3 linked regions of the Homo sapiens genome follow. The protein of the gene in region 3 interacts with the protein of the main gene of each other region in a biochemical or structural test. Each region holds a gene or a part of one and is shown on either strand. Other genes may lie near its edges. The genes, in order: CUL3, RAB9A and RHOBTB3.

Evidence for each region.
Region 1: the proteins of RHOBTB3 (region 3) and CUL3 form a complex in vitro, tested with the Homo sapiens proteins (one study listed by BioGRID).
Region 2: the proteins of RHOBTB3 (region 3) and RAB9A form a complex in vitro, tested with the Homo sapiens proteins (one study listed by BioGRID).

The regions. Positions count from the first base shown.
Region 1 is NC_000002.12:224,497,545-224,506,009, forward strand, and holds part of CUL3 (cullin-3), read right to left. Parts: coding exon 8,412-8,465; intron 6,279-8,411; coding exon 6,108-6,278; intron 5,529-6,107; coding exon 5,421-5,528; intron 2,944-5,420; coding exon 2,819-2,943; intron 2,674-2,818; exon of another isoform or gene 1,636-2,673; intron 306-1,635; coding exon 209-305; intron 1-208. UniProt on the Homo sapiens protein: Core component of multiple cullin-RING-based BCR (BTB-CUL3-RBX1) E3 ubiquitin-protein ligase complexes which mediate the ubiquitination and subsequent proteasomal degradation of target proteins.
Region 2 is NC_000023.11:13,691,479-13,699,943, reverse strand, and holds part of RAB9A (ras-related protein Rab-9A), read right to left. Parts: intron 1-8,465. UniProt on the Homo sapiens protein: The small GTPases Rab are key regulators of intracellular membrane trafficking, from the formation of transport vesicles to their fusion with membranes.
Region 3 is NC_000005.10:95,788,871-95,796,861, reverse strand, and holds the end of RHOBTB3 (rho-related BTB domain-containing protein 3), read right to left. Parts: intron 3,804-7,991; coding exon 3,688-3,803; 3' UTR 501-3,687; downstream 1-500. UniProt on the Homo sapiens protein: Rab9-regulated ATPase required for endosome to Golgi transport. Involved in transport vesicle docking at the Golgi complex, possibly by participating in release M6PRBP1/TIP47 from vesicles to permit their efficient docking and fusion at the Golgi.

The sequences.
Region 1 (8,465 bases), on a different chromosome or scaffold from region 3:
ACTGGTATAGTCTTCATATTTTCAAAGGTGCAGTTAGCAACTGAGAGAACAGAAGTAATAAATCAAAGCTAGGATTTTTAACCTTTCTAACATGTGAGACAGGCAGAGAAACAGAAGTAAGTAATTTACCCAGGTCAACATAAATCACACATCAGCTCTAATAGACTAACTTTAAGTTACTTAATACGTTCAAACTATCAATATTTACCTTTTTAACTGGTCCATAAAATGTGGCATTGAGATCTGCAGAACCCATATGATGCTGGAGTGTGAGCTGTCGACCACTGTGTTTGGCTAAGTAGAACCTTCAGTAAATCAAACCAGGTTTTAGAAAATCAAACAAACTTACACATTTGAAATTACAAACTACAGGATAACATCCCTTAAACATTTGTGTGTGTGTGTGTGTGTGTATGGACTTTAAAACTTAAAGGAAACTTTAGGAATCAAGTTCAGTTTCAACTTTCTATAGGCAAGACCTTGAGAGAGTCCTAAGTAACTCAGCTAGATATTAAATGACAAAGGCCCCACACTAAATAATTTCTACTGTACACTCTGCCCCAACCTACTGCTGCTCAGCCCTTGCTGTTCTTAAGACCACCTTTCTCCATAGTAACCCAATAATCAATTTGTTCTAAGTCAGTAGCAGACATCAACAGTACAAAATATACTCCTATACCACAGTACGAAAAATACTCAATGCACATTTATAAAATATTCCTCTGGGAAAAGTTTATGTAATTTTTTCTTACATATTAAAATTATAAAGGATAAACTCTCCCTTTGTTTTTGTTGTTCAAAACTGGTAGTTTTTCTTGAATTTTTATATTTATGTTTTTTGTCACTATCCACACCATATTTTTTCCAAAGCCTGAGCCACTCTGTGGTTCTTGCCCCAATATAACAATCATCCCTTCACTCTTAGAATTCCTTTTCCCTTGTCATTTTGCCTTTCTACAGTTTATAAAAAATGAGGACTTTGGGGAGGGAAAAAACCCAACATTTCTGTGAACTCGAGACTATAGGCAGTGCCTAAACCAGTAGGATCAGGCAAATAAAACTAGTTGGACAGCAGACATATCATGAACTCTTGCAACAGCGTGTTATCTGTGTGCATGTCTAAAGTGTTATACTGATTCACTATTACAATAAGGATCATGCAGTTGACCAGGGTGAAGCAGGACTGTCTACAGGATTATGTGAATTGTGGTGGTGGAGACAGTATACAAGATTAATGGATTAAAACCTAGCTGCTTTCCTGGAAAATGGCCTATGTTCTAAAAGACAAAATCTAGTTTTTATTTTTTTAATTTATGAAGCTACAAGTCAATAATATGCTAGTGCTTCTGGTTCAAAATGAAAGCAACTGGCTATGGTAATGTAGAGAAGACAGCAGGAATAGCACCAGAATGTTCGAGGCTTTTTAAGTTAAATTCTTAGTTACTTCACCTTACAAAGATACATGTCAATATGCTGAATACTCAACAAAGATCCAGGATATGGGCTATTTAAAAATACGTATCTCCTGGATCAGCACCAAAAATATCTTTAGTTTCTGTACAACCCACGTCAAGTTTTTAAGTGTAGGCAAGTCGAAATTATTTCTGATACAAATCACAAACTCCACAGAAATCATTCAAGATATATTCAAACAACTTTCAAATACATTTTGACATCAAGGTCAGGCAATTCACCTGGAAGAACATCTTAATAAGTACCAATGAATTTTTTGTAGTAAGATGTTTGATGTCAACCTTTTACTATGGGAATATTTTACATCTCACACAAAGAAGGCACTGGTACTTGGACACTTAAGACAATTACTAGAATCATTAAGACTAAGGTGAAGAATTTGTACAGTGCCTTCCACAATTTCAAAGAGGTCGTGACAGATACTTGTCCTCCTGGCAATATCAAATACAGTTTCTTCCCAGTTGTTTTTTCAGATCTGGTTTGAGGTTAACAGTTCACCAGTAGATGTTCTAGAGTAGCTCTGCTGTCTCTGATCCCAGCAGCAAGATGCAAGTGGGTCAAGAGACCTTTTGTTTGGTCACTGATAACTAATCTACACCATGCTGAAGAAATAAAGAAGCCACTCTGGTATTATTCCACTTATAAGCACCCTGCAGGGGTGTCCAGCTATCTACGGTCACTGCAAAAACTTCTGCCCCTTGTGCAATCAGCTCACAGACAATGTCTAAGTGTCCACCTTAGGCTGCTCGATGAAGGGGGTGATACACTCATCTTCATCCCTAGTGTTCACACGAGTGGTCTTTTCACAAAGCAGTCTCCACACTGGATAAGCCAATTATTTTCAGCAGCCCAAAAAAAATATTTGCTTGGATCTTTCTCTGTTTTTTTCTTGCATATCACTCTTGTTTTTTTTTCATCTTGCTCCTCTTCCTCATCAAAACTGCCATCTCAGAGACTCTGAGTACTAGTGGGAATAAGGTATCCACGTATTTCCAACAATTGGAGTTAGCTGAAGTGTTCAGAAAAGTCCAAGGAATTCTCTGGGTCTAGTTTTCCATCATCATTTACTTTCTCTTTTTCCATTTTTACTGCTGCTCTAAATAAAAGGCATTTCAAATGCCAGCATATAAACAATCTTTCTAGAGATAAATTATGCCTGCTTTACTTTACTCATCAAGATCCTATAGAGGGGGAAATTGCTGTATGCCAGGATAAATGCTCCTTTTGATCACGAGGTAATAAATGGAATACATTCATCCTCAATTACGGATACTAATGTTCAAATTCATTTTTAATTTTGAACACTTACTTGTACACAGTGATACAAAGTCTGATTTTGATTTACCTTCTGAATATCTCAAAAGCATGTCTTGGTGCTGGTGGGATGTTGCACTTTGGTGTGGCTGACTGAGTGGGCCAATATCCTGTCGTGAGCACCCGGACTGTAAGATCAACACCACCTAAAGATACCTATGTAAAACAGAAAGAGATATTCCCCTCAAAATTAACTAGGATTTGCTTTCTGTTCTGTTTAGACATTGTGTTAGATTTACCAAAGCAGTTAGCTCCATGTCTAATATCTAATTTAAAAAAAAGCAGATTTTCTTTTCTTTTTTTTTTTTTTTTTGAGACAGAGTTTCGCTCGTTGCCCAGGCCGGAATGCAATGGCACGATCTCGGCTCACTGCAACCTCCGCCTCCCAGGTTCAAACGATTCTCCTGCCTCAGCTTCCCGAGTAGCTGGGATTACAGGCATGCCCACCACGCCTGGCTGATTTTGTATTTTTAGTAGAGACGGGGTTTCTCCATGTTGGTCAGGCTGGTCTCGAACTCCTGACCTCAGATGATCTGCCCGTCTCAGCCTCCCAAAGTGCTGGGACTATAGGCGTGAGACATCGCACCCGGCAAAAAAACAGATTTCCTTAAAGGTTAGACCCACCCAGTGTTTCCCAAATTTTAACTACATGGCAAATAGCTTAATTATTGCTTATTATGTTAATTTAAAAACACTGACCAAAGAATAGTTTTTGGCACATAAATCAAGTCTTACTGTTATCACTGAGAACTGAAAAGTTTGGGCCTTTTTAAATAAAAGGTCAAGGAGGGTCAATTATATCATTTTAGAGAAAATTCTAGCATAATATCCTTCGTCTCAGTTTTAAAATATTTTTACTATCTTAATACATATTTCTAATATTCCAGCACCTATTTCAACTACAGTTAATTAAAACTTTTACGTTTTAGCATGTAGCTCACATTCTAACAACCTCTGCATACAGATCCAGTGCTATAACACTATAGATCCAGTGCTACAGAGCAGGTGCTCTACAAATATCTGTACAATGAATAACTACTTCTATGCTAGTATCAACTGTCACAATTATTTTCTTCCTTTAAACAAATTAAATTTTTAAGTAAACAACAATAAGGCACAACAAAAACTCTTAAAGATTAAATATTATTTCTATTATTGATATTCAGGATGTGTTATAAACCATCATTCCATTTTTATCTTACCTCAATGATTTAGTAATGTAAATTTTTAAGGGGAGGAATCAGTTTATGAATATCAAGAAGCATTCTACACTCCGATTTCTTCACAAGTATCCACTAAATGATTACTTAACTTTAAGGAAACTGAAAATAAACTTGGATGATGCACAGAAGAGAGGATCATAGAGGAGACTCTTAGATGGTGTACTGGGGGAGGTGGAGAACTGTTTATACATTCGCAAGTTGGTTAGGGGAAGGGAGGGTCACAAAGTGGACAGTCCATCCATCCCATATCAATATGCATGGGATCTAGCCCAATCTTCCCTATAGCTTTCAATGTGTAAGATTAGTGGAAGAAAAAAATTTAAAAACTTACTAGAGCAAACAAAAAAATACAAGAAAATATATCAATATATTAGATTTAACTATAAATTCCTAAACAATCTAAAAATAAAAATCCAGGATAATTACACCACTATTTCCTGTCCACCCGAAATTTCTGTCATGGACTTGCATCTTTCCTCCTCTCAGCTCTTCTCCACTGTAAACACTGATATTTATAAAGCAAATCATACAACTATTTACATTAGAGTCAGAATGTTTTCATAGAAATGAATGGTTATTCTACAGAATTACGTATTTTCACGTATCTGGTTTGCGAGACTATAAGGCCAGTAGAAGTGATGATCTCATATTTAGATACCAAAGGAAAAGACTCACAAATCTGTTAAATGGTTGTGACACATTTTAACCATAGAGTGGTACACGGTGATTTTAAAAATTTAAAAACTGTACAATTCTCTAAACTTAAGGTTAAGTTGAAAATCAGAGTAAAAAATGAAACTAAATTCTGAATTTCATTAAATGCTCATAAAACTCCCATCAGACTCCAAAGCTAAAGAAGTTCCAGCTCACCACCTTTGGGGAGTTATACCAAACACATTTATAATACATTAATTTCTGTGTTTTTATAGTCTCACTTCACCTGCTACGCACCCTTAGGATGTAAGTCCCATTTAAGCTAAACTTACAGAGGAGAATAATAGTAGTGAGGTATAGGAAGGTCAGGTGACTATCCCAAGATGACACAATCTTGGGGTAAAGTGAAAAGAAGAGTACTGAAACTCAGTAAACTTGTGTTAAGCCCAGTACTCTTTCCACAATTTATAATAGATTTGTATTATCTTTATTAACAACAGAATAATTCTCTTTATTAAATTGTCAGTGTATTCCTTCAAGTGGGAAGAAACAACTAAATTTTAAAAGAATAAAAAGTTTTAACATAAACACAGAATAAGAGGCAATGTGAAGGAAAATTAAGTACTCACAGATAAAACACATGTTGTCACTAATGACATTTAAAGAAACAACTGTCATCTGCTAAGTGGATGAAAATATACCCATTACAAAAGACTTTACATGAATATCTAAGTAGAAATTAACGCAGAATCTTACACCAGTTGCCTGTAGATGTTGCCTGAATTCATCCATCGTTGTGTTTGAGATGCTCATATCCCTAAACATTCCTTCCAGTTTTGACGTGAACTGACATCCACATTCAGTCTGTGGAGGAAAAACACAAATATACACAAATAAATGGTAGATGTTTCTATGAGAAAGTACAGAAAGAAATAAATTATTTCATGTTATTGCTATCCCTGATAATCTTCCTGTAAATTTTTCCAACAGTTGCTCTGTGCCTGTGGTTATCAAACTTTAGGATTTTAAAATGCAAATTCCCAGATTCTTTCAGAGATTCCAATATACCCCCATGAAAGGCAGGGCCCAGAACTGTTTTTAACTAGCATCTCAGGTGATTCACGTGCAAGTATTCTATGGACCACACTTTGTGAAAAAGAACTACACAGCATAGCCTCTTTATTGTTTCCCTTTTACTAATCCTCCCTTCCAGGCCTCCATGAATGTATCCTGACACACCAACAGAAATTCCAGCAAACTCTGAATGTCCCTGAACTTGAACAAATGTTAGTGTAGTCTGTGTTCTTCTCCAAAACAATCTACCTTTATTTCTAGAAATAAACACTTAATAATCTACCAAATTAATTTCCAATCACGTTGTCAGTACACAATCATAATAAACCTCAGTTAGGTGCACTCTATTTCATCTAAAACACACCTTACCTTTAACTTAGATATCATGTTTTTTTCAGAGTCATCAGAAACACTTTTATTTGTGAGAAGTCTCCTTGCCAAGTGTTGTTTATAATAACGTTCAAATACATCTTTTTCTTGCATAAACCTAAAAAGGACCATTGCTTTATCCAATATTGTTTCTACTTCTTGTTCTGTTAGCTGCAAAATTAAGATGATGTAACAATTATACAATTTTAGTTCTACAAAAGCAGTACTACGGTTCATTTACAGCTTAAAAACACTATTGTTTGAAAACATAGATATCTGGTTGACATACATCAAAAAAAGGGATACGGTTTGAGAAAGTGTCTCCTACTTCACACAGTAGCATCATTCTTACATTCTCATTTAGTGCATCATGAATGAGGGGTTGGAGTGGAATTCTATTCCGTAGAGGGCTACCACTGAATTGGAGGCATAAGGTAATATAGCGCTGGGTTAAGGGATGATTGAGAACAGATGAAATGAAATTTTAGTCACAGAGATTATTTTATGAAGCCTTTGCATATGCAGGCAAAAACTTACACAGCCAAAAGACGGAATTTTTCATTTAAGCTCACTGAAAGCCTCAACTGTGCAAACAAAAGGCAATAATTTGTTATAATCCAAACAGTAAAAAGGCCATTGCCCTTACTTTATTTTTTTATTTCTATTTTTTTTTTCTTTTGAGACGGAGTTTCACTCGTTGCCCAGGCTGGAGCGCAATGGCGCCATCTCGGCTCACCGCAACCTCTGCTTCCCGGGTTCAAGCAATTCTCCTGCCTCAGCCTCCCGAGTAGCTGGGATTAGACATGCACCACCACACCCGGCTAATTTTGTATTTTTAGTAGAGATGGGTTTCCTCCATATTGGTCAGGCTGGTCTTGAACTCCCAACCTCAGGTGATCCGCCGCCTTTGCCTCCCAAAGTGCTGGGATTACAAGCGTGAGCCACTGTGCCTGGCTGCCCTTACTTTTAAATAAGGGCAAAAGGATTCTGTGGCAGGTTGTATTAATATATTTGAAAAACGGAAGACCAAATGAATGCATAAATTAATAGACTTTTCTATTCTGTGCAACCTTAGTGATTTTGTTCCCTTATTGCAGCTACTGCCTGTAAAACCTGTGACGACATGTTGCTTTTCCCTTTGGTGTCACAAATTCCAAAATGAAGTCAAAAGAGACCAATTCAGATGTGAGCATGTTTTATGCTTCAGTTGATTTTCTATGCTGTCGTGAGCTCCTCAGGTTCCAGAGATATCATATATCACAAAGGCTTGAAATTGAGCTACACCAACCATTTTCTGAGATGAGATCTACTCTATCTATGCCTTAATATTCTTGGCATCCAATTATTGTTTGACATATAACCTTCAGAACCAGATGAGAGCAAACAACACTCTCTACTAGAAAGTTTTCTAGTTCTTTATCTTCAGCATGCCTAACTCTCAGTCATAAAAATGACTGTTTACCAACTACAGCTGTGTAGTTGTTCAGTTTTTTTTTTTTTTTTGAGACGGAGTTTCGCTATTGTTGCCCCAGCTGGAGTGCAGTGGCGTCATCTTGGCTCACTGCAACCTCCGCCTCCTGGGTTCAAGTGATTCTCCTGCCTCAGCCTCCTGAGTAGCTGGGATTACAGGCATCCACCACCATGCCCAGCTAATTTTGTATTTTTAGTAGAGATGGGGTTTCACCAAGTTGGTCAGGCTGGTCTCAAACTCCCAACCTCAGGTGGTCTGCCCACCTCGGCCTCCCAAAGTGCTGAGATTACAGGCATGAGCCACCATACCTGGACAGTTGTTCAGTTTTTTTGAGACAAGGTCTTGCTCTGTCGCCCAGCATAGAGTGCAGTCACGCGATCACAGCTCACTGCAGCCTTGAACTCCTGAGCTCAAGTGATCCTCTGCCTCAGCTTCTGGGACAACAGGTGTATACCACTGTGTGCCACTAATTTTTTTCTTTTTTCTTTTTTTTTGTAGAGATGGAGTCTCACTAAGTTAACAAGGCTAATTTCAAACTCCTGGCCTCAAGAGAGCCTCCTGTCTTGGCCTCCCCAAATGCTGGGATTATAGGCATGAGCCACCAAGCCCATCCAGTTGCTTGTTTTTGAAGCCAATTACACATTAAGTGAAATGTCTAACTACGTTTGGGCATGTCAAGTATTTCAAACAATATTTTTTAATAGACCATGGCACCCATTTAAGCACAGCAATGGGTCATGCTTAATTTTTATCTGTGAAATGTCCTAATTTTACATATAATTTTATATCTTTAAATAAAATTAAATGTTATTTTCAAATGCATTACTACTTACCCCTTTGACTCCCTTTTTCAGCTTATCATCAATAAATAATGAGAGGTATTCAGG
Region 2 (8,465 bases), on a different chromosome or scaffold from region 3:
GACTGTGTATGTGACTGAAGTTAGACTTTTTTTATTGGTCCTGGATCTAATTGTCTCCATTCTGACAGATAACTAAATTCATTTATTTATTATTTTTATTATACAGGATTTTGAGCATGGCATTCAAAGAGCTATTCAATGTCAGTTACAAGCCTGTCCCAATTATATCCCTACTACTCACCATCCCCGCACCTATCACTGGCATTTTCTGTCCATATCTTTGCTCGGGCTGTTACTTTGGCCTGGGAGGCCCCTCCCTACTTCGACAGCTATGACAATCTTAGTCATCAGAAGCCTAGTCCAGATTACCTCATGTAGGAAGCCAGGACCGCCCCAGCAACCTAATCTTTCTCTTTTCTTTGCTCTCATCATTTCCACCTCTTTACAGCTCTCATTTACTTATGCTCTAATCACCTTCAGTTGTGTATGTGTCTGTTTCCTAATTACAATGTCAACTCCCTGGGAGGGACACACAACACCTAATTGCATCCATTCACTTGTCCCTTTTTTGTTCTGCCACTTCTCGTACAATGCTCTACATTTGGTGAGGTGCAAATAAATGCTACATTGAGAACGAAGAGTATATTACTTCCTCTTTTATTCTTGTTATTCTATTATTATTCTATTTGTGCTTTCTGTACCTAAAATTCTTTGTTTCTCTATCAGTTCTCCCCGCATTCTATTTTTGAGGTCTATTAAAATGTGTGGGTAGGAACAAAAACATTGATTCTTACTTGCAATCCCAATGAGAATCCCACTTTAAAATAAGTACTATTGACTGACTGCGACAGGGAGCTGGCAAATGCTGAAAAACGACTACATTCCTTAATAAGCTGCCAAAGGGAGAGCAGGCATCATTTGTAAACTGCCTTCTCAAAACTTGAGATTTTAAAACACATACTCTGTAACCCCTCCAAAAACTTAAAATGAATTTATCACTCCTGGTTTAAATTTAGGAACAGATTTTTTTTTTTTTTTTGGTCAAATTCACAAGTTCCTTTGGATTCACCCTGAATGTCCTACTTAGAGGTGTACTTACCACTTCATTTCACTTCATAGCTTGAGGAAATGAGGTTCAAAGAAAACCAGGGAAACAAAAGCATGGATAATCTGAAAATTATTTCTATTTTTGCTGGAGCTGTATTTATTTCCTCATAGCTTAATTTAGGCGTGTCTCACTTAACAGCCTAATTGGTTCCACTGTTTGTTTCTAAAAACTTCCTGATTGTCTTACAGAAATTTATGAGCAAGAAGCAAGTCAAGGAAAGTCATTATGTCTAATGGGTACCAGCTCTACAGCAAGAAATTACCAAGAAAAATAAATAAAGAATTAAGAAAAATACTGTCAGAAAATACCATACTTAGTGTGCAGGAAGAAGCAAAAGAAAGAAAAGGAAATACCATAGGAATAGGCCAACTTGGAGGCAAGACCTGCCAAGGTGAAATAAATTATCTAGTCCTATCTAGTTAATCACTGAGCATTACCTCAAGAACAGGAGGCAGCTAGAGGAGAAAAACTGTATTATCAAACCATACTATCGCTATGTCAGAGCACCTCCCCTATTGAAAGAACTTATTTCAATTAAGTAACTTTTTTTGAAGCTGAATCAGCTAACTTAACTTTTAAGAAATATGTTAACATTTTTCTTAAAACAAGGCACCTCTGTAGGTATGTTAACTAATCACTAACAGTGGTGGGGGGAGTGGGAAAGGAGGAAGTGAGAAGGGCCAAAAAAAAAAAAAAAAAAAAAAAGAAAAAAAAGAAAAAGAAGACTTAGTTAAGGAACTAAATCTTAAACCATCATGAAACTATATAGTGCAGCAAAATCCAACAGACCCTTCTGCAATGACGACAATGTTCTATAATCTGCACTGTCCAATATGGTAGCCACTAATCACATGTGGCTACTGAGCACTGGAAAGTAGCTGGTCTAACTGAAGAACTGAATTTTTCATTTAATTTTAACTAGTTTAAATTGCTACATGAGGCTAGTGGGAACTGTGTTGGACAGTGCAGGCCTAGAGTGTGGTTAATTGGGAGTCCATGAAATGAGCTTCAGGGAGAAAATACACTCCCTAGAATCACATGTGAAATAAGGATGAGAGCATTGGTGGAAGCTTGTGTGCTTGCGCTTTTTTTCTGGAAAGAACAAAAAATGTTTCATCAGATCTTAAGGAGTTTGGACACCAAGAACTGATTGCTACATGCCTGCATCATTTGTATGTTATGTGTGATCCATTTCTGTAGCTCATAACACCCTTCAAGAGTTTCTGTCTTTAGCAGAATTTCCTCTTTTTCTCCCTCACCCATGAGACTTTTATGAATATCACACTTTGACCATAAACTGTGATAGTTCAGTGAACAGCCTTACTCATGGGAAACTGCTAGTCCTGAGAAGTGAGAATAATTTTTTTTTGTTTTGCTTAAGTTTTAAGAACCAAGCATAAATCTACCTGCGATGACACTTACCTGTAAAAGGTACTTACAATACTTTTTGACAATAGAGTGCACTTTGGAAGACAGAATTAAAATGCAAAGACATAGATAAAAGTCACAAGATGAGAACATGGGGAATTAAAGGTAGATATTTCAGGAAGAAAAACAAATTATGAAAGGAATGAATTTGAACATATATGTCAGAAAAATATATTAAAGCAGCAAAACACAAATCAAAAATGATCTGCAACGTTCTGCTATCACCTAAAGAAACATTGGTTCTGAGGCCTCCCTTCCAGTTCGATAAGAAACCAAATGTCTTTAATTTACAGCAGACAAAGCTAGGGGTTGGGGAACTATACAAACTCACTGAGTGAGGGGCTCCACAAGGCATGGAGCCACAGCAAAAGGAAACTTCTCGACTGTTAGAGAAGTTAATTACAAGGAGTGAGGATTTCCTAAGAAGATATATTTAAAGAGGGGCAGCTATGTCCGGTATATAGGACTCGACTAGACTAGAGGCTCCCAAATACCACTCTGCAGGGAAGTTGTCACCAGCTCAACACTGCAGGCAGCTCTTCATCAAGTTCAGTTTATCCAATGTAACTGTCACTTTGTCAATGATCCCCCCAGGTCTGCCCCTATCGAAGTGTTGAAACTGACTTTTCTCACAAAAAGCTTTCCAAGCCCAACCTCACTCTGCCCATCACTACCCATTTCTCAATGTGCCTGCAAACCTGATTAACTCTCTGCTCAGTTTATAGGACACCAGGGCTCCCACCCCATCCTTTCCCCCTGATTGTCAGCAAAAGTCACCAAAGACCTCCTAATGGCCAATCCAATGGCTTTTTCTCAGTCCTCATCTGAATGCCCTACGGCACATACAACCCTAAGGTGAATACAGGGAAAAGTTCTTCTCTCAGGACTTCATTGTGTATGTTTCTAGAAAACACCTGCAAGTTTGACCAGCATCTCCACCTGAGGCCCAGCTAGTATATAGTGAATTCTCTCAGGTGTAGCCATCTGTCTGAATGTGCATGAACTAAAATCTTGGAAGGGTACCCAAGTCTTTTTTCTTTTTTTAAAAGACAGAGTCTTTCTCTACCACCCAGGCTGGAGGGCAGTGGCATGATCATAGCTCACTGCAGCCTCAAACTCCCGGGCTCAAGTGATCCTCCCATTTCAGCCTCCAGAGTAGCTGGGACTACAGGTGCATACCACCAAGACTGGCTAATTTTTTTTTTAATTTTTTTTTTTTTTTTGTAATGACAAGGTTTCACCATCTTGCCCAGGCTGGTCTTGAACTCCTGGGCTCAAGCAAGCCTCCCTCCTTGGCCTCCCAAAGTGCTAGGATTACAGGTGTGAGCCACCGTGCCTGGCCTCAAGTGTTTTTTAAAAACAAATAAGGAAACAGGTCTAACTGGGAAAGTGTCTTACACAGGATCACACATCTAGCTAGAGGCACAGGGGAGACCTTCAAGTCTGAGCCAGGACTTACCACCCATTACTGCTTCTATCAGGTCCAAACAGCCTGGCAGTAATCCTCTTGAAAATGTTTCCTAATTGTCCATAAAACCACTCTGATAATAGGTTCTGCTTTCTCTCCTCCTTGGCCCCTTAGCTTTCTTCAACATAGACAGCTCCCTTTCCTGACAAGCTCTTCATGAAGCTATTTCACGAGACTGAAACCCTTACCTGTTTCCAGATGGTATCTCCCTGGGCTATAAAAACCAGTGATTCCTAAAGTCTACATCCGCATGTCTGAGCCAGACAAGAATTTGCAACCCCTTGTATAGTATGTTCATCTGGTACCCTGATGGTAGTTCAAATTCAACATATCTAAAACTGAGCTAATTATTTTCTCCATTTCGAAAATCTCTTTCTTTTCTCTTACGCACTTCATTCAGCCACACATGAAATATGTCCACTTTTCGCACTACCTATTGCTATTGCCTTGCTTGCTCAAATAATAAATGCTATGGCTGTAATTATATTAGCAGCCACTATTAACTGAATATCTACTAGGTACCTGGCATATAGCACCTTAAAATTACCTGCAAGTTGGACACTATCATCCATGTTTTATAGATCAATAAACAGAAGTCCACAAACTTCCCCAGGTCTAACTAAATAGGGCAGGTCAAGTATGTGTTATCTTCACTCCCACCCAGTGACAGAAAAGGTCTACGTAAGGTACAAATCCAAAAAGGACACCAAGAAAGAACAACTGTAGATGCAAGACAGCAACAAAATTTAGAAAGTGGAAAGCAAATGGTCCGGGAGTGACAGAGTGAAGAGACAATGAAACCTAATGCGGAAAGCAGCAGCCAACAATGAGAAAGCTGATTCCCACCAGAGAACTGGAAAAGAACTGAACAGCACACGGGCACTTCTCGAGACTTCTCCAGACAGGCCGGGTCCGGAGGCTCGAGGGGTCCCTGAAAGGCTGTAGATTCCATGACCCACATCCCTGTGCTACCCTAGCAGACCCACTTCCTAAGGAATTGCACCCAGCAGAAAATGGAGAGAAAGCACAAAGGAAAGTGGAGCTGGAGGGACGATTTGCACAGGAAACCTGAACTGCAGTCTCTTTCCTGTCTGTCCCTCCCCTCAGCTTAGCAACTAAAAGGGTAGCATCCCAAAACTGCAAAGCTCTGGGGGAAATGAGGGGCCCAAGGGAAAAGCTTACAGATACTGGAAGGGGGGATGGAGAATTAAAAACGGACTTTGATGCCTTTTCTCCTCACCACTATACCTTGTAGTCCATAAACTAGAGCCAATAATACCAACTTCTAATCCTGAGGTTCCCAAACTGCATGCTGAGGTGCCCCAAAGCATCACGGCAAATTCACAAGGGCAGGGTGGGCTATTTTAAATTTCTGAGGGAAACATAGATACTTGACATTTGTAGGGCACCCCACTGGAGGGGAGTTAATTAGATTGCACTGCATTCCTTTCGATGACATCATATCTTCATGAAGCTAGGTTTTCCAGGACTGCTGTGATAAAAATCAAGTACTGGGCACAAATTAAAGTGGATTATGAGGGTGGCAACTGTTTGCTCCCAAACAACTATTTTTAAATGTTATTTAAGAATACTAGCACTCATTCCAAAGAATGTTCTGCATTCACCAATGGGTAGTCCTCAGGCAGTTCTAATCTGACTTCCAACCACATTATGTATGTATTTCCAGGTATATACATCTGATCAAATACACAGGTGTGAAACTGCACAGACCAGAGCAGTCACCTAGCTGCATAAACACTCCTATCTGTTAGAGTTCTGCACAGCAAGTTGTAGAAACAGAGGTCTGTAAGGCTTTTTTTTTTCCCAGGTTTTTCTAACTCTGAGAACATAGACAGTCTTATGGGCACTAACCTTTTGGAAATTACCTTAGCTTCTGTACCCAAAAATCTAATCCAATTCACAGGAACTTGAAATTAAAATACAGTAGTCAGTTCAACTCCTTTATACTGTTTTGCTCTCTGTCACACTTGAATAAAGAATGTGGCAATGAAATGAATGTGTCCAGTTGTTCTATAGTGTTTCTCCATCCCCTGTCAAACAACAGAATATGTTTGTACGAGTCAGGCCTAAGACAAAAGTGGAGTCTGTGTCCACAGACTCCCAGAGAACTCCTGGAGAATGCAATGAGCTGGCTTCCATGCAGCCAGAATGTGAAGCCTGAACAGCCTGTTTCACTTCTCCATTTTTTTTCCAAAATACACACCCAGTCTCTCTCCACCTCAGGCAGATCTAGCTGTTACCTTACATTCATTTACACCTAGTCATCCTCACTGTATTCATAATAAGCAACATAATAACAACGCCTGAACTCACCATGGTCAAAAATTAACAAAAGGATTTGAAAAATCCAGAATGTGGAAATACCCAGAGCACACAGCTTCACAACATGCACAGTACCAAGAGTCATGGTGAGAAACAGAGATTTCTCCTCCAAGTTATCTAACTAGCCCTGGCACCCCTGGGCTCTCTGGCAACACGGCCTGGGACCGCCTCCGACCTCCCTCCCCTCTGCCTACACACCTAGGTGGCTCCACGTCTCCTCCCTCAGGCATCCTCGCCTTCCAATTGCATCATAGCTTTCCACCAAACTCCCTGAAACATTTTTTGAGTTCACCCTCACTCCTCTACAAAAAAGTCCTTAATAAATGTTCTCTGTTGATGGCCTACTTAGTCACAAATCCTATTCTCTTATGCTTGGTTCTGACTGAAGAGTCTATTATCTATACACCTTTCAAGTTAGATGCGTTGCCCAAACACACACACACTTCCATTTGGCTTACTTCCTCCTCCTGCTGCTTAACACATTGCCTGGGCAGAACTACTTGGAAGCTAATAATTTGCTGCCTCTACTTTGTGACATATAATCTCCTAGAGATTATGAAGCACAGCCATCTCATTTTACCCAGAAGGAAATGTGGTGACCTAAGTTGGCTGGAGGAGCAAGCCAATTAATGATCAAACAAGACAACTCTAGCACCAATTTATCTCGACCTTTCCCAGAATAAAACACGTCACTTTTGTTAGATTCCATGTGTATGCACTAGCAATCATTTTGAGGTGTGTAACTCAACATCCTCCCTACCCCACAGCAGACAACTCCTGATAAGAGGCAGAGAAATCTATTCATCAGCAAAGAACGTGCTGTGCATTGGCATGAGTCAAAAACCAAAGCTACCGACAAAAAGATGCCATGTTGATTGCGTGAATAACACTCAGTGATGCCTAAAAAGAGATGCGATCCTTTTTGACTGCTCCAGTCAACCACTCCCTCCCAAAGTTCACCTAACAGTTAATACTGCCACCAGAATGAAGCAGTACATATTTTGAAAGGCCTGATCTTAGACAGGCATGAAAAAGAGACCAGAAAACACCAGAAAGTTATGGAAAAGCCATTAAAAAATTCATCATTTCTTTCTCGATTCCAGTGATAAAATGCAGGCATAACTATTTGTCTGGTGAGGTGAAATTTAAGGATGAATTTTATGCTCAACAAGAATGGCTTCTCAATTTGATTCTTGTAAATATTCACACGTGGTTAACCGTACAAAACTATAACACACACATCAAGTTTTCCCCATTTTATTTAAGTCTGCCCACAGTAAACACCATGACACAGGTACTTCTGTGCCGAGTGTGGAGTTGTTTTCTTTAATTATTGTTATTTTTTTAGCGACAAGGTCTCACTCTATCGCCCAGGCTGGAATGCAGTGGTGTGATCATGACTCACTGCAGCCTTGAACTCCAGGGCTCAAGTCGTCCTTCTGCCTCAGCCTCCAGAGTAGCTGGGACATGCACCACCACACTGAGCTAGGCTAATTTTTTTTTTAATTTATTTTTTGTAGAGACGGGGGTCTCACTATGTTGCCCAGGCTGGTCTCAAACTTCTGGGCTCAAGTGATCCTCCTGTGTGGGTCTCCCAAAGCGCTGAGATTACAGGCATGAGCCACCACACTCAGCCTGTTTTGCTTTTTTTTCCTGTTTTGCTTTTTTTTAATGAACACCTGGCCCCTGTCCTTGAGTAGCCCAGGCAATAAATTCTGTTCTAGGATGATGTCAGAACCTAATCTTATGACTGTGATTGGACTGTAAGCTTCAGGAAGGTTGGGACTCCCCACCGCCCTTCTCATCAGCACCTTTGTATCAGTGCCCCACAGGCTGCTCAGACAACTGAAATAATGCAGAAACTAAACTTTCTAAGTCCACTTTAATGGCTCTGAATAGCTCTAAAGTTCTTTTTGTCATTTTTGCCTTACAACAAAAAACAGATTCTGCTACCAGAAATTATTTGGTCTTTTTTTTTTTTTTTTTTTTTTTTTTTTGAGATGGAGTCTCATTCTGTTGCCCAGGCTGGAGCGCAATGGCGTGATCTCGGCTCACTGCAACCTCTGCCTCCCAGGTTCAAGCGATTCTCCTGCCTCAGCCTCCTGAGTAGCTGGGATTACGGGCATCCGCCACCACGCCTGGCTAATTTTTGTATTTTTAGTAGAAACGGAGTTTCAC
Region 3 (7,991 bases):
TCATGAGTTTAGTAGGCTTTACTGAAAATTTGGGAACCTGCTGGGGAGGGACTGCATCATTCCATGCACCATCCATTCTCATGGTATGGCTGCCTTGTCTCTTTCCCCTCCCTACCTGGGCTCCTCAGCCCTGGGAAGTTCCAAATTCTTTTCCATCTATTATCAGAGCAGCTTCTCCACTTCCCAAGCCTTGGTCCCAGACAACACTCAAGCCTACAAGGGGCTCACTTCTATGTTTAATTATCAAAGCATTTTTCTAAATAAAGGCAGTTATTTTGCTGAGATAAATTCTGGTCTTGACTTTTAAAGATAATATAAATTTCTTTATCTCACCACACATATTAGTCAGCTATAGTATCAGCAACATTCTAGATATTTTACACATAATGAAAATTATCTATGAAGCATAATTATGCTTGAGAAATACAAGGCAGCATTCTCCAAATCATTTCAGTATTTCAACATCCAAGGTAAAATAATTACAGGACACTTCGTTAAACTTGTTTTAAAAAAGGTTTATTTGTTACAAAAAGTTAAATACTAAAGCTAAAAACATATAAATTCAGGTCAGGCTATATTAAAATACACACATACCCTTCTTTGCAAAATTATTAAAGGTTGAATTAAACAGATGCTTTAAATAAAATAAAGTACTCTTTGAGGACATTTTTGTCAGATTAACTATAACAGTGTAGTGTAGTTTTTAAAATTGCAGTTGAAAAGTTTAGCTGTCTTGGAAGTCAAATTTATCCAATTGTTCAGACTTCTGTTACTACTTAATATGAAGCCACCATGCTGGCTTGGACAGAATTAATTTCATTCATGTTATGGAGAATTCTATATTACAAATCTGGTCCCCTATAATATGAACAGTGAGCAGTCAGAAATATACAAAGGGTTAAATAGGGTAAAGACTTTGGCCAAGAAAGGAAAGGCCTTAGTTCTACCATAGAGTATCTTCTCTAATTAAAATGACTGGGAAATATATGGAAGCAGAAACCAGCACAAAGCACTACCCATCTAGAAATAATCTTTCAGTTAAAAAACAACTCTCAAAACCAGCACTCATTTCTCTAAGATAGGTTATAAGTATTTTACGATTTCTTGTTATATTAAATTGAGTTAAAGGTACTGACAAGTCAATATGCAAATGGGTTTAAACACTAATTTGATTTCTCTTCTGACTAGCTCTGGAGAGCTGTGACATCTGGATGTTGGTGTCACTCACACAGGTAGGTGGTAGAGAACTTTCATAACAAAACTACACACTCCACACCAACTGGGCACCAGCTTCCAAACCCAACTCCACTTCAGGTCAAACAACCTTAAGGAACTACCTATAGTCTAGTTAAACATTAAATAGTATTTTCAAGAAAATACCTTTTTTTGCTTTGCAACTTAATATTTTTCAATTTCCTAGATTAAAAGTTACTGATTTTGAACTTTAAATGCTGTAATTCATATAGGGGTGCGAATATGCTCATGAAAAACAAAAGGCTATTATTCCATTTTAGAAGTCTTAAATGTGAATGAATTTCTAGAAATCTACCACAGTATCTGTTTTTTACAATGCTAATCTTTGTCAAATGGGATTTGCCAGTGGTTGATTAACTCAAGTGATTAAAATACAAAAGACATAAAATCGATTCCAGTAATCATCAATGATACAGCCTAATTAAAATCAGCCCAATTAAAATATTTCCTGGAATATATCTATAGGGAATTTTTAGTGTTTCACTTTGGTTTTTTTTTTTTTTTTGAGATGGAGTTTCGCTCTTGTCACCCAGGCTGGAGTGCAGTGGTGCGATCTCGGCTCACTGCAACTTCCACCTCCCAGGTTCAAGCGATTTTCCTGCCTCAGCTTCCTGAGTAGCTGGGATTACAGGTGTGCGCCACCACATCTGGCTAATTTTGTATTTTTAGTAGAGACGGGGTTTCACTGTTTTGGCCAGGCTGGTTTCGAACTCATGACCTCAAGTTATCCACTTGCCTCAGCCTCCCAAAATGCTGGGATTACAGGCCTGAGCCACCATGCCTGACCTAATGTTTTACTTTGGCAGTGTTGGTATACATACAAGGGCTAACGGTATGGGGTCCCAATATTATACTATAAAACCATTTAATCAAATTTTTGAAAAGTCGGAAAAACTGTGTGTATTCTAAAGTCACTGGAAATTAAAAGAAAAATATATTCCAGTAGTGACTTACAGATGAAAATGATGCTGACAATAGACAGTAATCTGTTTTTCCATGTCTAGGTTTGTGAGTTTCTGATATAATTATTTCTCTATACATGTGATATGAAAGAAAGAAACTATCAGTCTGTCCTCTATCCCAGTCCATTTTCCCTCTATGTAACAAGTCTTTGACTTACATCCTTTCTTTGAACTTACTGTGTAATATTAGAGCACAAGATTCATGCTACTCTTTATCAAATAATCTTGCAGTCCTTGAAAAGAATTCAAAGAATTTAAGCCACTGACGTCCTAATCTTGGTAAATAACACTAAAAACAAATTCTTGAGCCAACTTCGGTAGCAAATTCTCTACAGAGCATCTTTCTCTGTGAACATCTTTATACATGTGTATTAAAGTTAGGCTGGTTAGTCACTCTTACCAACCTCCTGGTCTTACAGAATGATCAAGAAAGTATTTGTTCATCTATGATAGAGCAAGAACTGTGACTGTTTTAAAGCTAAGACAACACAACACATTTCTCCCTTGCCAGCCAAGGTGGCAGTGGAGGCCCTGGGTGGTCCAGACCTCCCCAAAGGCGGGAATCTTCACTATGTTCTCTTCCCTCCGGTGAGCCTCCTTCTCTTCCCTTTATATCAGTGCCTTTTTCTGCTTTCAGAGAGAAAGGTGTTTGAGCAAGAAAACATAGGATATTTCCCACCACGAAACAGACATAATTTTGAGGGCTCAGCACAAAATGAAATCATGGGGCCCTTCTTCAAACATTATTAAGAATTTCCGCTATAGCAGAGCCTTGAACCAAGTGTGGGGTCCTTCTAAGTGTGGGCCCTGTGCTGCTACACAAGTTACACGCTAAGAAAGCCAGCCCTGCCTAGGTTCCCCGCCTACTCAGATTGCCAAAAGGAGATAAAGTGGCTCAATTGGGTTGTCCAGATGAAAAGCAGGTATTTTTTTTATGATGATTCAAACACTGTCATCAATTGAGAACTAAGTGGCATTTCACTTTCCAAATGGCCGGCAAATTTCTATTCCTAAAATCTCATGTTGGACTGATTGGTTTTCCCCTAGATTTCTCATTATACAAATGGTTATGCTGGGTCTTTAAATGCCCCTTATTTTAATAGAGCAATTAATCAGACATGATTAAATTTCTGTATTAATCCTACGTAATTTTTTTTTTTTAATCTAAGCATTTCTTAACTGAGAGGGGTCTAAATATCACTAAAGCAACAGGACATCTTTAAGGGAAAACAGCTGCAAAACAGCTTTGCATTCTAGAGTGAAAGCCTTAGTTTTAGCCTATGGTATATTTTGTTCCCTTTTAAGACCACAGTGGTAGTTTTTTTCCAAAGAGAACTAATAAACATATTAAGCTATATGGTAATTTTTCTAACACCCACATTGGTTTCGGTCAGAAGAATTTTACTGGAACCTGGAGGTATCCCATTCTTCATAATAATAAAAAAGAAATGTAGTGTATAAAAGCTCCAGGTTACATTACTAAGCAACGACATTTCCGGGAGTGAATATACTTCCTGTATTCCGCAAGCTGCTTCAAGTACATATTCGACGGCCATCTGTGCTTTTCAACAAAACTGCGTTCTTCCACTGAAGTTTTAAGAAAAAGACTGTTAACCGAATATGTTTTATTATGGATCAATTAAGATATCAGCTATTGATTTCCTCTTTAATAGATGAGATCCAGCTCTGTGATACATCTCCTACCATTCCCACAAGTTTTCCCAAATAATTTACTACCATTTTGGTTAAATTAGTATCAGGATTTAAGTTATTATGTGACTTACAATTATATATATCTTGTCCACTACTTCGAGTAGTATTTCATTATTTTCCTTTTCTTTTTTTTTTTTTTTTGAGATGGAGTCTCATTCTGTCGCCCAGGCTGGAGTGCAGTGGCGTGATCTCAGCTCACTGCAACCTCTGCCTCCCCAGTTCAAGCAATTCTCCTGCCTCAGCCTCCCGAGTAGTTGGGACTACAGGCGTGTGACACCACGCCCAGCTAATTTTTTGTATTTTTAGTAGAGACGGGGTTTTACCTTGTTGGCCAGGATGGTCTCGATCTCCTGACCTCGTGATCTGCCTGCCTTGGACTCCCAAAGTGCTAGGATTACAGGCATGAGCCACCACGCCTGGCTTCCTTTTCTTTTCCAATAAAGCTTTTGTTTTTCCTGGATATAACGGACTTATTTTTTTTTTCCATTTATAATACTTAGTTTTCTTTTCTTTTCTTTTCTTTTCTTTTCTTTTTTTTTTTTTTCTGAGACGGAGTCTTGCTCTGTCGCCCAGGCTGGAGCGCAGTGGCGCAATCTGGACTCACTGCAAGCTCTGCCTTCCGGGTTCACGCCATTCTCCTGCCTCAGCCTCCCGAGTAGCTGGGACTACAGGCGCCTGTCACCACGCCCGGATAAGTTTTTTTGGTATAATACTTAGTTTTCTTTGTAGCTAACTTAGTCTTCCAAAGTCCTTCAAGTCCTCTCAGTTGTGCTTCCCACCCAGCCAGTCATCAGATAAGCTGTTCTTCCCTGTTGCTGCTGCCCTGCCTGCTTTCTGGACCTGCTTCCTGCCTTGGAGTTGGATCCCTCCATTCTTGAACTCCAGGTCCTTCGCTTTGTTCATTCTCTAGGTTTGGTGAAGCACAACTGTCAGAGGCATTTGAACTAGAGCAACTGCATCTTGAATAGGGGCTGGGGACAATGAGGCTGAAACCTACTGGGCTGCATTCCCAGACAGTTAGGCATTCTAGGTTACAGAATGAGATAGGAGGTCGACTCAAGATATAGATCATAAAGACCTTGCTGGAGGCCAGGCACGATGGCTCATGTCTGTAATCCCACCACTTTGGGAGGCCGAGGCGGGCGGATTATTTGAGGTCAGGAGTTTGACACCAGCCTGGCCAACATGGCAAAACCCCGTCTCTACTAAAAAAAAAAAAGAAAAGAAAAGAAAAATTAGCTGGGTGTGGCGGCACATGCCTATAATCCCAGCTACTGAGGAGGATGAGGCAGGAGAATTACTTGATTCTCCATCTACTGTTTAACCTCATCTATTATAAGTCAGATTAACAGGGTCTTGATTCAGCCTGCAGGACCATACAAACTAGCTGCTCAGCTCTAAGTTTCAAGAGGAAGCAAAGGTGACATGAGACTACTCCCTCAGTAAATATTAAAAACCAGAGAAAAGTTATTAGAGATGAGCTCTGGCAGCCAGCAAAACAAAACAAACAAAACCCCATAACACAGAACACATAATATCGAGCTAAATTAAACTGCGAGAATAATGAATCCATAAATGCCAAGGGTAACATATTCCTGTGCACCGCTGTTTGTGTTCATGAGTCCAGTATATAAAAATCTAATACTTAATGACCTATTTAACTGGGTTCTGATGTATCTGTGCCTGTACTGACATGACATCTTTTCCAGTCTCACTTTTTGATTTCTAAACACCTCTAAAAATGAAAAATTCTCAGTCAACAGAAAACAAGTTGTAGAATTCCAATAATAATTTGAGAACTTTTCAAGCTGAAGATGGACAGTTCTATAAGGAAGCTGTAGAGTGACCGTGACAAGAAACTTTCCCAACTTCAGGTGACCATGTGCAGTGGGCCAGGTGTAAAGCACTGGAGAGAAGTGACTGCGACCCTCTGGAGAGGGCATGCTCCTTTAGGTGGGCCGTCAGCGCCAAGCCACATGTTGCCACTAGGATGATGGGCCTGGGGTAGCCAGATCTTCCAATTTTTCAAAAGAAGCCAAAATATGGTTATTTTTAAATACCAGTACTATATATTTTTAACTGTGGGGTCCCAATAAAACACGTTGGCAGGCTACACCTAAACCATAGATGGCCAGTTAGTAACTATTGATTTAGACAATTAAATTCTCCCTTATCCAAAAGGCGCTTTTTTCCTCTGCCCAAGAGGATGACACCTCATAGCAGGACCCTGGACAGGAAGAGGCACTGCAGAATGAGAGTTCTCATGATTCCCTTTTAATTCCCATCAAAGGAACAGAAGGCAACATCGACACATCGTTTCCTCCTTAGCCTGCCACCTCACATCGCACTGGAAGTCCTGCTTTGCACCATGCCAGGTGTCATAACATACTTTATAGGTAATTGGGTAATACCATATAATGAAAATTCATAACTAAAAGGATTTATAGACCATCCTTCTCCCAAGGTTGTAATAGTACTCCATATATACCATATATCTATACAAGATAGTAAGTAGAAAATAATCTTATTCTTCTCTTACAAATAAGAGTGACCTCAGGTAACATAATGAAACTGGCTCCAGGACCAAAGTGCAATTCATTTAACTTTTAGCAAGCTTCTTAAATAACTATAGAAGCAGCTACTTAAATAACTATAGAAGAATGTTCCTTCTGACAGCAAGCATACACAAGCCTTATCTTTATGAACTGACTGTTTTTTCCTTGCACAAAGTACATAGCTAATAAATAACTGTTGTTTTGTTTTGATGTGATTATGCTTCTCTACTGTACTAATAGTTGACTTATATAAGGAGGCTCCTAATAGACATATAATGTTTGTTGACTGGCTGAATACATCTCCCAAAAACGGATTGTGTGTTCCTGGGTTTTCTTTAACTGCACAAGTAGCTGAATAAAAACAAGAGATTTTTACTCTTTTTTCTTTTAGAGACAGAAGTCTCGTTATGTTGCTCAGGCTGGACTCAAACTCCTGGGTTCAAGTGATCCTTCAGCCTCAGCCTCCCAAGTTGGCTGGGATTACACCGAGGTGGAATCACCATCTTGACCATATGATTTTTATATCTTTTACCAGCAGAGTCTTTTTTACGAAGTAAAATTTTAGGTAGAACTCAAGATATGAAACAGATAAAGTGGAACTACTATGACTGAAGGAGGGAGGGAAGAGTCCAAGAACTGTAAATTTTAGCCTTCTCTTTCCCTTTCCCTTACTCCCTCTCTCTCTCCTTCTCCTCACCCACTCCCTACTTTCTGTCCCCCACCCTAGAAGACACTTCAGTTATCTCCACGGAGATTTATTTGTCCAGATTGTGAAACTCCTTGATCAGGTAATCTTTCACTTCCTTTTCTTTTTAGCTCAAATTTTCCTTGAGTCTATGCTAGATAATAACATGAGCAAACCACTGCATCTAAACTGTCTATTCTGACAACTATTATATTTTCATTTTTTTCTTTTTATGCAGTACTCAGTAGTTCACACTTTGGTTTTAATTTTTATAATTTACCTTAGAAAGCATATTACATACACTCCCAGTAAGTTTCACAACATTTTTTATATATGAAAAACTGTTATTCCAAAGTAATATAAGGGACTCCCATATAGGTATACTCAGTAAATACAGATATCCAGTACAATAAAGCTAAATATAATATAGTTAACAAGAGTTAAATTCCTTTATAAAAAATTTTTAAATCTGTACTGTTTAAACTTTGCTGCTGACTTAGGTAGTTAGAACTAAGATATCACTTTTCACAACCAAATGTCACCTGAGGACACATTTTGTCACCTTATCTATTTCAGGGAAAGAAAATGCATTTAAAAACGGATGGAGCTATAAAATAATCATTAGAAAACTTCTTGTGTAACACAGGTTAAGGCACTTATGTAACACAGGTGACTATAAATTGTTTCCTCAATTACCACACTGCATAATTTACAAGAAATTTATTACATTGACTATTCTTATTTTGCTAAAAGTACTACTTCTACAACTTATGTCTCAAATCTAAGAACAAAGAACATAAAGTTTTCTTTTCAAAACAGAAA